Regions from separate parts of the Homo sapiens genome. Here region 2 is linked to region 1. The links come from fine-mapping of genetic effects on gene expression. A gene starts in region 1. The other region holds a variant in brackets. All regions are shown on one strand. Distances are between the middles of the regions.

Evidence for each region.
Region 2: its variant is fine-mapped to the expression of SLC27A1 in monocytes after LPS (Fairfax 2014, PIP 0.94).

The regions. Positions count from the first base shown.
Region 1 is chr19:17,468,189-17,473,552 of GRCh38, forward strand. It overlaps SLC27A1 (solute carrier family 27 member 1), which reads left to right and starts at 2,336. Exons shown (of 12, transcript NM_198580.3): 1 at 2,336-2,519. The coding sequence starts at 2,353. RefSeq lists enhancers at 1,401-1,530, 2,952-3,453 and a silencer at 2,281-2,410.
Region 2 is chr19:17,510,627-17,515,990 of GRCh38, forward strand. It overlaps PGLS (6-phosphogluconolactonase), which reads left to right and starts at 1,023. Exons shown (of 5, transcript NM_012088.3): 1 at 1,023-1,334. The coding sequence starts at 1,047. PGLS-DT (PGLS divergent transcript) reads right to left here and starts at 1,263. Exons shown (of 3, transcript NR_147835.1): 1 at 717-1,263. RefSeq lists enhancers at 1-526, 527-1,183, 751-1,000, 1,494-1,788, 1,751-2,010 and 1 more and silencers at 1,061-1,190, 1,201-1,250, 1,494-1,788. The variant T/TAA (reference allele first, on the strand shown) is at 2,886.

The DNA of each region.
Region 1 (5,364 bases):
CTTCTATTTTTTTTTTTTTAAGACAGGGTCTTGCTTTGTCACCCAGGCTGGAGTATAGTGACGCGATCTCGGCTCACTGGATCCTCTGCCTTCCGGGTTCAAGTGATTCTGCTCCCTCAGCCTCCGGAGTAGCTGGGATTACAGGTGTGCTCCACCATGCCTGACTAATTTTTGTATTTTTAGTAGAGACGGGGTTTCGTCATGTTGGTCAGGCTGGTTTCGAACTTCTGGCCTCAAGTGATCCACCCAACTCGGCCTCCCAAAATGCTGGGATTACAGGCGTGAGTCACCACGCCCAGCCTGCCCTCAGTTTCTTTACCTGTCAAATGGGGTGATCACAGCGGTGCTACCTGGCTAGGTAAGAGTGCAACTGCAGTTACTGGTCATTGCTGACTCTTCCAGGCCCAGAAAGCAGCAGGCCAGTGGCTGGCTCTGGGCCTGTCCTCCGGATCTTCCTCGTGATCCCTCATTCCAGCCACCCTGCTGCCCGCAGGGACCAATGGCAGCGTAGGGGGTGAGTGCCTGCCCAGCCCTGTCCTCCAAATGCATTGGAATCAGGCCCGGGCCGCCTCCTAAGGAGAACGCTGGAAAGGTCGGCCAAGGAGAGCAGAAAACAAGCAGTGGTGGAGTCGGCAGTGGGGCAGAGGAGGGGGAGCTGGAAGGGAAGGACCCCAAAGCAGAAGCCCGCACAGTAGGCACAGCGCACCCAAGAAGGGTCCAGGAGTCTGCAGAAACAGAAAGGTCCCCGGCCTCAGCCTCCTAGTCCCTGCCTGCCTCCTGCCTGAGCTTCTGGGAGACTGAAGGCACGGCTTGCAGCTTCAGGTCAGCCAGAGAATGGGGTTGTGCGTGCCCCCAGGCCAGCGCTGGCAGCGCCTGGGGGAGCATCTAGGACCCCGGGGTGCAAGTAAAGGGCCTGTAGGTGCTTCTAGGAAGGATGGGGACCTGGCGTGTGGATTTTGTCCTCCCTGGGATCCTGGGGTGTGACGGTGAGACTTAACCGACAAGGCTTCGGGACATGGATTAAGAATTAGCTGTGTCCTTGAATCACACGTGTTAAGACCGCGGCGGTGTTTACAGTTAGAGACTTCTGAGGCCCCAATGGTGTGAGTTGAGCACTCCCCCGGGCCCTGGAACGTGTTTTTAAGACCGAAAGAGGCTTTGGGGCTTGGATTTAGGACAAGCTGGAGCAAGAATACAGCCCGCGCGGGCCGTGGGTGTGGACTGGGATATTTTTGGTCCCCCGGGGTAGAGATCCTGCACGCCAACTAGGGCTCGGGTCCTGATATCTTGCGAGCCACGCCCCAAGGCTGCAGGACACGTGTGTTTCCTAAAAGGAGAGGGGGTGGGGCAAGGCTTGGTTGTCATGGAGACAGCGGACGACCCTGGCGGGCCGTTCTAGCACCCATGTCTCTTTGGCCGTCGCCTCTCCGGTCCGGTTGCCTCTCTATGGTCGTGGCTTCTGGAAGACGGCCGGCCTCGGCTCTGCGGGCTGAGGGGCTTCGAAGTAGACAGGAGGGAAGAGGGGCGGGGCCTAGGTCCTAGGGGGGCCGGAGTGAAACCCAGGAGGTGGCGACCGAGCCAAAGCCTGAGGGCGGGGCCCGTGGCCAGGATAGAACCTGAGCCTGGGAACTTGGGCTAGGCCCGGAACTGGGGTGGGGCTTGAACGGATTGGGGAGGGCTCTAGTTTCGGGAGGGTGGGGCGTGTGCTTATTGCGGGGGGGTGGGGAGGCATATGTCTAACCTAGGGGGTGGGGCCTGGCTGAGAGGGGCGGGACTCGGGGAGAGGGCTTGTACCTGTGGGCTGGGCTAGAAGCATAACCTAAGGGCGGGGCCCAGTGAGTGGTGAAAAGGCCACGGGGTAGAGGCAGGACCAGGAGGAAAGGGGACAGGACGTGAAGGGTAATTCGGGGATCGAGGATAGAGGCTAGATGAAGGCATGTGGCGAGGCCTGACAGTGACCGACAAGGTGGACATGCTGGCTCTGGGGGCGGGGACTGTTGTAAGATTGGCAGGGAAGGATGGGCTCAAAAATATGGAATAGAGCGGACCCAGGGTCCGGGGGCGGAGCCTGGCCAGGACCTGGCCAATCCCAGGCCTGGGGCCCTGGTCTGGTTCCTAGTTAGCGGGCGGGTGTAAAAGCCTGGAAAGGGGCGATGCCTGGCCTGAGGAGTTGACCAATCCCAGGCCTGGGGGCGGAGTCTGACTCGGAGCGCGTTCCCGGACTCGCGGGGGGCGCAGAGCCGAGGCCTGGGGGCGCGGCTCGCTGTAGAGGCGGGGGCGGTCGTGGGGCGGAGCGGGTCGTGGGGCGGGGCTGGAGCGGCCCGCGGCCTCAGCTCTCTCTGCTTCCCCAGGATGCGGGCTCCGGGTGCGGGCGCGGCCTCGGTGGTCTCGCTGGCGCTGTTGTGGCTGCTGGGGCTGCCGTGGACCTGGAGCGCGGCAGCGGCGCTCGGCGTGTACGTGGGCAGCGGCGGCTGGCGCTTCCTGCGCATCGTCTGCAAGACCGCGAGGCGAGACCTCTTGTGAGTGTTGCCGGGATCCGTCCAGGGCTGGGGGCGGGGCTGAGGGCTCTGGGGGCGCACGGTGCAGGGCTGGGTTGCGGGGACGGCTTGGAGGGTCCGGAGAGCTGAGGGTGCTTTGTAGGTTGGGGGCGGGGCTGGGCCGAGGGCTGGGCGGGGGCGGGGCCTGAGAGGGTGACCAGTTGGGGGTCTCTGAGGGGGCTACAGGGGACACTTTAAGGATTTCTCGAGGAAGATGAGTAGCCTCTAAGGTGCTTCGGGCGTTGCAGGCTGCTTAGGAGATGATCTCAGGGGATTTGGGGGGCAATTTGGGGGTCTTTGGGCAACTGGTGGAAATTCCAGGGAGCTGGGGCTGACTGGAAATCCGTGGCGGTGTGGGGGTCTTTTTGGAGCCGTGATAACTGTGAGAGACTTCAGGGGGCTCTCCAGTAGGTCACCGGGGCTCACAGGGACGACCCAATAGATAGTCTCTGGGGGGTTGCCAAGACACTTTGGGTCTATCTAGGGCTTTCTCTGAGGGATGAGCGAGCTGCTCTATAAAGGACTTCCCGGGTTTCTGAAGGTGTGAGTTTCCTCGGGATCGTTTACAGCTGGGGCACTGTTTGAGATTTTGGGGTCTGTGTGGGACTTTGGGTTTGGGAGTTGTTCGGAGTGTGTCGGGAGGCTGCTGTGTATTCCAGGACTTGTTTGGGGGGTCTCTTCTGGAGACTGGGACACTGGATTCATGCTAGGGGGGCAGATTCTGGTGTCCTGTGCAAGGATCCTTGGAGGGTTTTTGCGGTGTCTCTGAGGGACTTGCTCAAACGAGCCGTTGGGGGTCCTTCTGGGATGAAACAGGCATTGCTGGGGGCTTCTATCAGAGCAGACCTCAGGAACAGCACCACGTGGGAGCAGGTGAGCGCCGGCTAGCGGGGCAGGGCTCAACACCTTCACAGCTCCTTGTAAGATGGAGTAGCAAGAGGGACTGAACCCATTGTAAGGAGGGCACAGAGGGTGTGGAGATGGGAAAGATCCCACCGTAAGTTGACTGGTTCTGAACTTTCTAAAACTCACCCCTTCTGCATGCCATGGCCCCCTGCCCCCGGCTCCTTGGTTGTTCTGATGTGGAAATCTGACTGTGCCCTCTGCTCAGACACCTTCCATGGCCAGCCCATCCTTGGCAGAAGGAAGACTCAGCCCCTAGCTGGGCACTCAAGGTCCTACCATCTGTTCCCTGCCCACCTGCCACTCCCCCCATCCATATGTTCACCTGGTCTTCAGAAAGACTTGCAGTGTCAAGCTCAAGCTGCCCAGAACATACTGGACCCCTTTTAGCCAGGGCAGGCTCTCCCTCTGGGAACCTTTGCTGAATTTTCCTGCTCAGCACCCTCCCATAGCTCCTTGTTGCCCTTAGAATTGACGCCATACTGGCCGGGAGCGGTGGCTCACGCCTGTAATCCCAGCACTTTGGGAGGCCGAGGCAGGCAGATCACGAGGTCAGGAGATCAAAACCATCCTGGCTAACACGGTGAAACCCCGTTTCTAATAAAAATACAAAAAAATTAGCCAGGCGTGGTGGTGGACGCCTGTAGTCCCAGCTACTCGGGAGGCTGAGGCAGGAGAATGGTGTGAACCCCGGAGGCGGAGCTTGCAGTGAGCGGAGATCATGCCACTGCAGTCCAGCTTGGGCGACAGAGTGAGACTCCGTCTCAAAAAAAAAAAAAAAAATAGAATTAGAATTGAGGCCATACTCCTGAGCATTGCGCACGAGGTCCCTGACCATGTCCCAGCCTCCGCTTACTTCCCTTTTGTCGCCTAGCTGCACTTACCTTTTGTCTATTGCTCATTTGTTTGTTTGTTTGAGGCAGAGTCTCACTCCGTCGCCCAGGCTGGAGTGCAGTGGTGCGATCTTGGCTCACTGCAACCTCTGCCTCCCAGGTTCAAGTGATTCTCCTGCGTCAGCCTCCCAAGTAGCTGGGACTACAGGCACGTGCCACCATGCCCAGCTAATTTTTGTAATTTTAGTAGAGATGGGGTTTCACCGTATTAACCAGGCTGGTCTCAAACTCCTGACATCACGTAGTCCGCCTGCCTTGGCCTCCTAAAGTGCTGGGATTACAGGCATGAGCCACCATGCCTGGCTCCCTTTTTTTTGAGACAGGGTGTCTTCTCTGTTGCCCAGGGTGGACCAGCCTCCATCTCCTGGGCTCAAGCAATCCTCCCACCTCAGCCTCCTGACTAGCTGGGACTACAAACGCCTGCCTCCGCTCCTGGATAGTTAATAGAATGTTTTTTATAGAGATGAGGTCTCGCTATATTGCCCAGTCTGGTCTGGAACTCCTGGCTTTAAGCGATCCTCCTACCTCAGCCTCCCAAGTGGCTGGGATGACAGGTGCACACCACCACACCTGGCTAATTTTTTTATTTTTTGTAGAGACGTGGTTCTGCCACGTTGCCCAGGCTAGTCTCGAACTCCTGGCCTCCAGCGATCACCCAATTTCAGCCTCCCAAAGTGCTGGGATTACCGCGCCCAGCGTGAACTGCTTTGAACCATATTGTCTACTTGACTTTCAGACAGCCAGATGGTGCAGTTGGAGTTGCAAACTCATGTGAGGTTATGAGTCATCGATCGAGATTTCACCCCTTCCTCCTAACAGCAAGGTCTGAGATACCAAATTTCCTTTTAGCTCCTGGTGTGTGTATGTTAAGGAAAGATCTTATTTTGATTTCCAATTCACCTTTATGTTGAATGGGCATGCTTTGAGGTCTTATCAGACTCAAACCTGCTTGTCTGACACCTAAGCTGTCCCCCTCCTGGGGCTACAATGACATTTTGGCCTCTGGTTGGTCCTTATTTTCTGATCACCTT
Region 2 (5,364 bases), 42 kb after region 1:
TCTTAATTTGCTACTGATTTTAAAATCCACTACCTGTGTGAGTTGAACTGCGCTTACACACATCACTGAAATATCCCACTCTCAGAAGTGGCCCAGCCTCCCCAGGCCCACCAGGCCTTCTTCCCCTTCCAGCCCTCTGTCCAGGCAAGAACTCGATTGGAGGCCTTTCTGGGCACTCAGAGGGACACACCACCACACTAGGAGGGTTAGCTTAAAAAATTCAACAAGCATGGCCAGGCGCAGTGGCTTTCGCCTGAATGCTACCACTTTGGGAGGCCGAGGCAGGAAGATCGCTTGAGCCCAGGGGTTCAAGATCAGCCTAGACCATATAGCAAGAGCCCGTCCGTCCGGAAAATGTAAAAAAAAAAAAAAAAAAAATTCAACAAGCATATTTTCATCCCCTACTTTTTTTTGAGATGGAGCCTCGCTCTGTCGCCCAAGCTGGGGTGCAGTGGCACGATCTCGGCTCACTGCAACCTCCGCCACCCCGGTTCAAGCGATTCTCCTGCCTCAGCCTCCCGAGTAGCTGGGACTACAGGCGCCCGCCACTACGCCCGGTTAATTTTTTGTGTTTTCAGTAGAGACGGGGTTTCACCGTGTTAGCCAGGATGGTCTCGATCTCCTGACCTCGTGATCCGCCCGCCTCGGCCTCCCAAAGTGTTGGGATTACAGGCGTCAGCCACCGCGCCCGGCGGTGCAGGAATTTTAAAACTCACCAAAATACGCCCTCCTTCAGAAAATCCCTGCCACCTCGATAGGACGTCCTCTTCTTGAGCTCCCCTCTCCGGCCCTCCCTGATACAGCAAGGTTGAGCATTCGGGCACTGGCTTCCCGAACTCACTTCGACTCAGGCACAGCAGGCAAAGATTCAATGGGTAGGGCCGGACCGACTGCCCGACCTTCGCGGTGCTTCACTTGCCTCACTGCGCATGTGCCAAAGACAATCACCCAAAGTACTCGAAACCAAGCGGCAGGGCCGGCCCTTGCGCAGGCGTACTAGCGACGGCCGTAGGGAGCGCTTCCTCCTCCCCGCCGCCGCCCTCGCCATGGCCGCGCCGGCCCCGGGCCTCATCTCGGTGTTCTCGAGTTCCCAGGAGCTGGGTGCGGCGCTAGCGCAGCTGGTGGCCCAGCGCGCAGCATGCTGCCTGGCAGGGGCCCGCGCCCGTTTCGCGCTCGGCCTGTCGGGCGGGAGCCTCGTCTCGATGCTAGCCCGCGAGCTACCCGCCGCCGTCGCCCCTGCCGGGCCAGCTAGCTTAGCGCGCTGGACGCTGGGCTTCTGCGACGAGCGCCTCGTGCCCTTCGATCACGCCGAGAGCACGTACGGCCTCTACCGGGTGAGAGCTACGGGGGCCGCCGGGGATCACGCCGAGAGGGCCACAGCCACCGCCTACACCCCGGCTACGGAGGCCGCCGGGGGCCATGCCGAAAGGGCCGCGCCCACTGTCTGCACCTCGGCTACGGGGGCCACTGGGTATCATGCCAAGAGGGCCGTGCCCACTGCCTGCACCTCGGCTACGTGGGTCGCTGGGGGTCATGCCAAGAGGGCCGCGCCCACCGGTTGCCCTCGGCTACGGGGGCCACTGGGGGTCATGCCGAGATGGTCACGCCCACTGCCTGCACCTCGACTACGGGGGCCGCTGGGGGTCTAGCCGACAGGGCTCGCCCGCCTCCTGAACCCCGCCTACAGTGGGTCCCGCAGGACCTCACTGCGCCCTCTGCCTTTATCTAGGCAGGGCTAGAAATGGTCTACTTGCAGTCCGTCTTCCTGCTTCATCCGGTGGCCAGGCAGAGGGAACGGCACGGGCAAGGGCCTGGAAGGGAATCCGAGTGGCCCATGTCAAACGATGCCCATAACTCAGCCCCGTAGCGGACGGGGGCACGAGGAATCAGGTGTAGAGCCTGAATCTCAGGGTCCTGATCTCTAACCCCAGCGAGTTCTCGGGGATCCCTGGGCAGCTTTGCCGCTCTGATGGCTCTGCTTCCAGGCTGTTCATCTTTGGCTTTGAGCCTCAGGATTCTATAGAATCAGAGGAGCGCGCTCTTTTAAAGACAGGGTAACTGAGGCTTGGAGGAGCCTTGGCCTGGCCGAGGGAAGAGTGGGAGGGGCGGGCTCAAAGGCCAGGAACCTCAAGTCACTTGAGTCTGGCAGCGTCAAGGGACACCCCATGCTGGGTGTGCCGTCTTCTCTTTGCATAGAATCTTGAGCTGATGATGGTTTTGTGGGTTTTTTATTAAGAGAAAAGGCTTACTGAACGCTTTATATGCATCAATTCATGAGTCCGTACCACAGCCTATGAGATGTTACACTCATTTCACAGATGGAGAAACTGAGGCCAGAAGAGGTGAGCTTACCTGCCCAAGGCATCTAGTGACCAGAGGGGCAGCCAGGGTGTGATCCTGCCTCATCTGACTTCGTAGTTGGGTACACATTTAACTTCCGCCTTCCTGTGTGTGTTTTCCAAGAGCATCATTAAAAAGTTTTGGCCGGGTGCGGTGGCTCACGCGTGTAATCCCAGCACTTTGGGAGGCCGACGTGAGTAGATCACCTGAGGTCAGGATTTCGAGACCAGCCTGGCCAACATGGCAAAACTCTGTCTCTACTAAAAAAAAATACAAAAATTGGCTGGGTGCGGTGGCTCACGCTTGTAATCCCAGCACTTTGGGAGGCTGAGGCGGGCGGATCACGAGGTCAGGAGTTTGAGACCAACCTGACCAACATGGTGAAACCTGTCTCTACTAAAAATGCAAAAATTAGCCAGGTGTGGTGGTGCGCACCTGTAATCCCAGCTACTCGGGAGGCTGAGGCAGGAGTGAGGCATGATCAGTGAACCGAGATCATGCCATTACACTCCACCCTGGGCGACAGAGTGAGACTGTCTTAAAGA[T/TAA]AAAAAAAAAAAAAAGCAGGTTTTTGGCCGGGCGTGGTGGCTCATACCTGTAATCTCAGCACTTTGGGAGGCCAAGGATGGTGGATCACCTGAGGTCAGGTGTTGGAGACCAGCCTAGCCAACATGGCAAGACCCCATCTCTACTAAAAATACAAAAATTAGCTGGGTGTGGTGGCGTGTGCCTGTAATCCCGGCTACAGGGGAGGCTGAAGCACGAGAATCGCTTGAATGTGGGAGGCAGAGGTTGCAGTGAGCTGAGATCATGCCACTGCACTCCAGCCTGGGCGACAGTTGAGACTCTGTCTCAAAATAAATAATTGTGAAATGCTGCAGAGTGCTAGGGAATAGGGAGTGAGCATTCGTCAAGGGCTATGGGGTGGGAGGTCCTGAGAAGGTGCCATTTGAGCTGAGAGCTGGAGCATGTGCAGGAGCTGGCCATGGTCAAGCTGTGGCAAGAGGGCTCAGCTAAGGCCAAAGCCGTGTGATGGGAGCAAACCTGAAGCCAGGACTTGCTCCTTCTGCCGGTTCTCTGTGAGGGGAATCATATCGGTTCCCTAGGGCTACATAACGAATGACCACAAACTGAGCGGCTTAAAGCCACAGGAATTTATTCTCTCACCGTTCTGGAGGCCAGAAGTCTGAAATCAAGGTGTTGGTGGGGTCACGCCCCATCTGAAAGCTCTTTGGGAGGATCCTTCATTTTCTCCTCATCTTCTGGGGGCTCTGGGCGTTCCTTGGCTTGGGGTCACACCATTCCAATTCCTGTCTCTGTCTGCACATGGCCTTCTTGGATTCTGTGTGTCTTCTCATCTTATATAAGGACGCCAGTCATTGGATTTAGGGCCCACACTAATCCACTATGACTTGTTCTTAACTAATTACATCTGCAAAGACCCTATTTCCTTCCTTCCTTCCCTCCTTCCCTCCCTTCCTTCCCTTCCTTCCTTCCTCCCTTCCTATACTTTCTTTTCTTTTCCTTTCCTTTTCTTTCTTTTTTTGAGATAGGATCTTGTTGTGTTGCCCAGGCTGGAGTGCAGAGGCATGATCGTGGCTTACTGCAGCCTTCAGCTCCCGGGCTCTATCAATCCCCCTGCCTCAGCCTCCTCAGTAGCTGGGACTACAGGTGTGCACCACCAGGCCCAGCTAATTTTTTTTTTTGAGTTGGAGTTTCACCCTTGTTGCCCAGGCTGGAGTGCAATGGCGCGATCTCAGCTCACCACAACCTCCGCCTCCTGGGTTCAAGTGATTCTCCTGCCTCAGCCTCCCAAGTAGCTGGGATTACAGGCATTCACCACCACGCCCAGCTAATTTTATATTTTTAGTAGAGGTGGGATTTCTCCATGTTGGTCAGGCTGGTCTCGAACTCCTGACCTCAGGTGATCCGCCTGCCTTGGCCTCCCAAAGTGCTGGGATTACAGGCATGAGCCACCGTGCCAGGCCGCTAATTTTTTATTTTTGGTAAATACGAAGTTTCACTATGCTGCCCAGGCTGGTCTCAAACTCCTGGGCTCAACCGATTGTCCCACCTCAGCCTCCCAAAGTGCTGGGATTACAGCCGTGAGCCACCATGCCTGGCCATTTTCTGTTGTTTATAAGCCTCGAGTTTATGGTGTTTTGTGATAGCAGGCTGCATAGATTAACACAGGGACCTTGGACAAAGCAGAGTGGTCTTTCCAACTATGGATACGATTGTGTCCCTCCCCAGCTCACACACCCTCCTTGGCTCCCCAATGCCCTCAGTGTGGAGCTCATACTCCTCAGGTCAGCATTCAGGGCAGTCAGCCCCTGCGTTTACTTCGTGGCTCACCTTAGCATTGCCTCAGCTCACTGAGCTAGACTCTGCACAAACACGAGGCACCGAGACATGGACGCCATCTCAGAGCAGACCAGGGCCCCTGGGGCGCCTCTCAGTGGGATAGGGCTGCAGCTTTCTCCTTGATCCAAGTGCTTTTGAGTTAAATCTGCTGCCAACGACTCCACCATTCACAGGCCAGGGCATCTACTGTGCGCTAGCCACAGGTGCTGGGCCTGGGCAAGCCTGGCCCCCACTCCCTGTAGTGGGGCAGGTGCAGGCGGGGGTGGCTGCTCGGAGGAGGTGGCCTGAGGGATGTATATGAGTTTCCCAGGCAGCCTTAGGAGGGAGGGTGGGGATGGAGAAGGTTACCCTTCTCCATGGAGGGTGGTGAGGGGCTGAGTTTTATCCCAAGGGCCGTGGGACCCTGGAGGCTTTGAAACAGGACAATGGGCTGGCTAGACAGGTGCAGGCTATGGCCAGGAAACCCCCCAAATACAACGGAATTGAAAGACTCCTGTTGGAATGCTGGCCCCCGCAGGAACCACCATGATCCCGATTCACCCAGGAGGGCCACCCTCCCGTCCAGCCCCCCAAGAGCAGCAGGGCTCCCTCTTGCCCTTGAACCTCCTCTGCCCTGACAGGCGGCGTCACCCAGGGCTCAGGATCCTGGCTTCCAGCATTCCA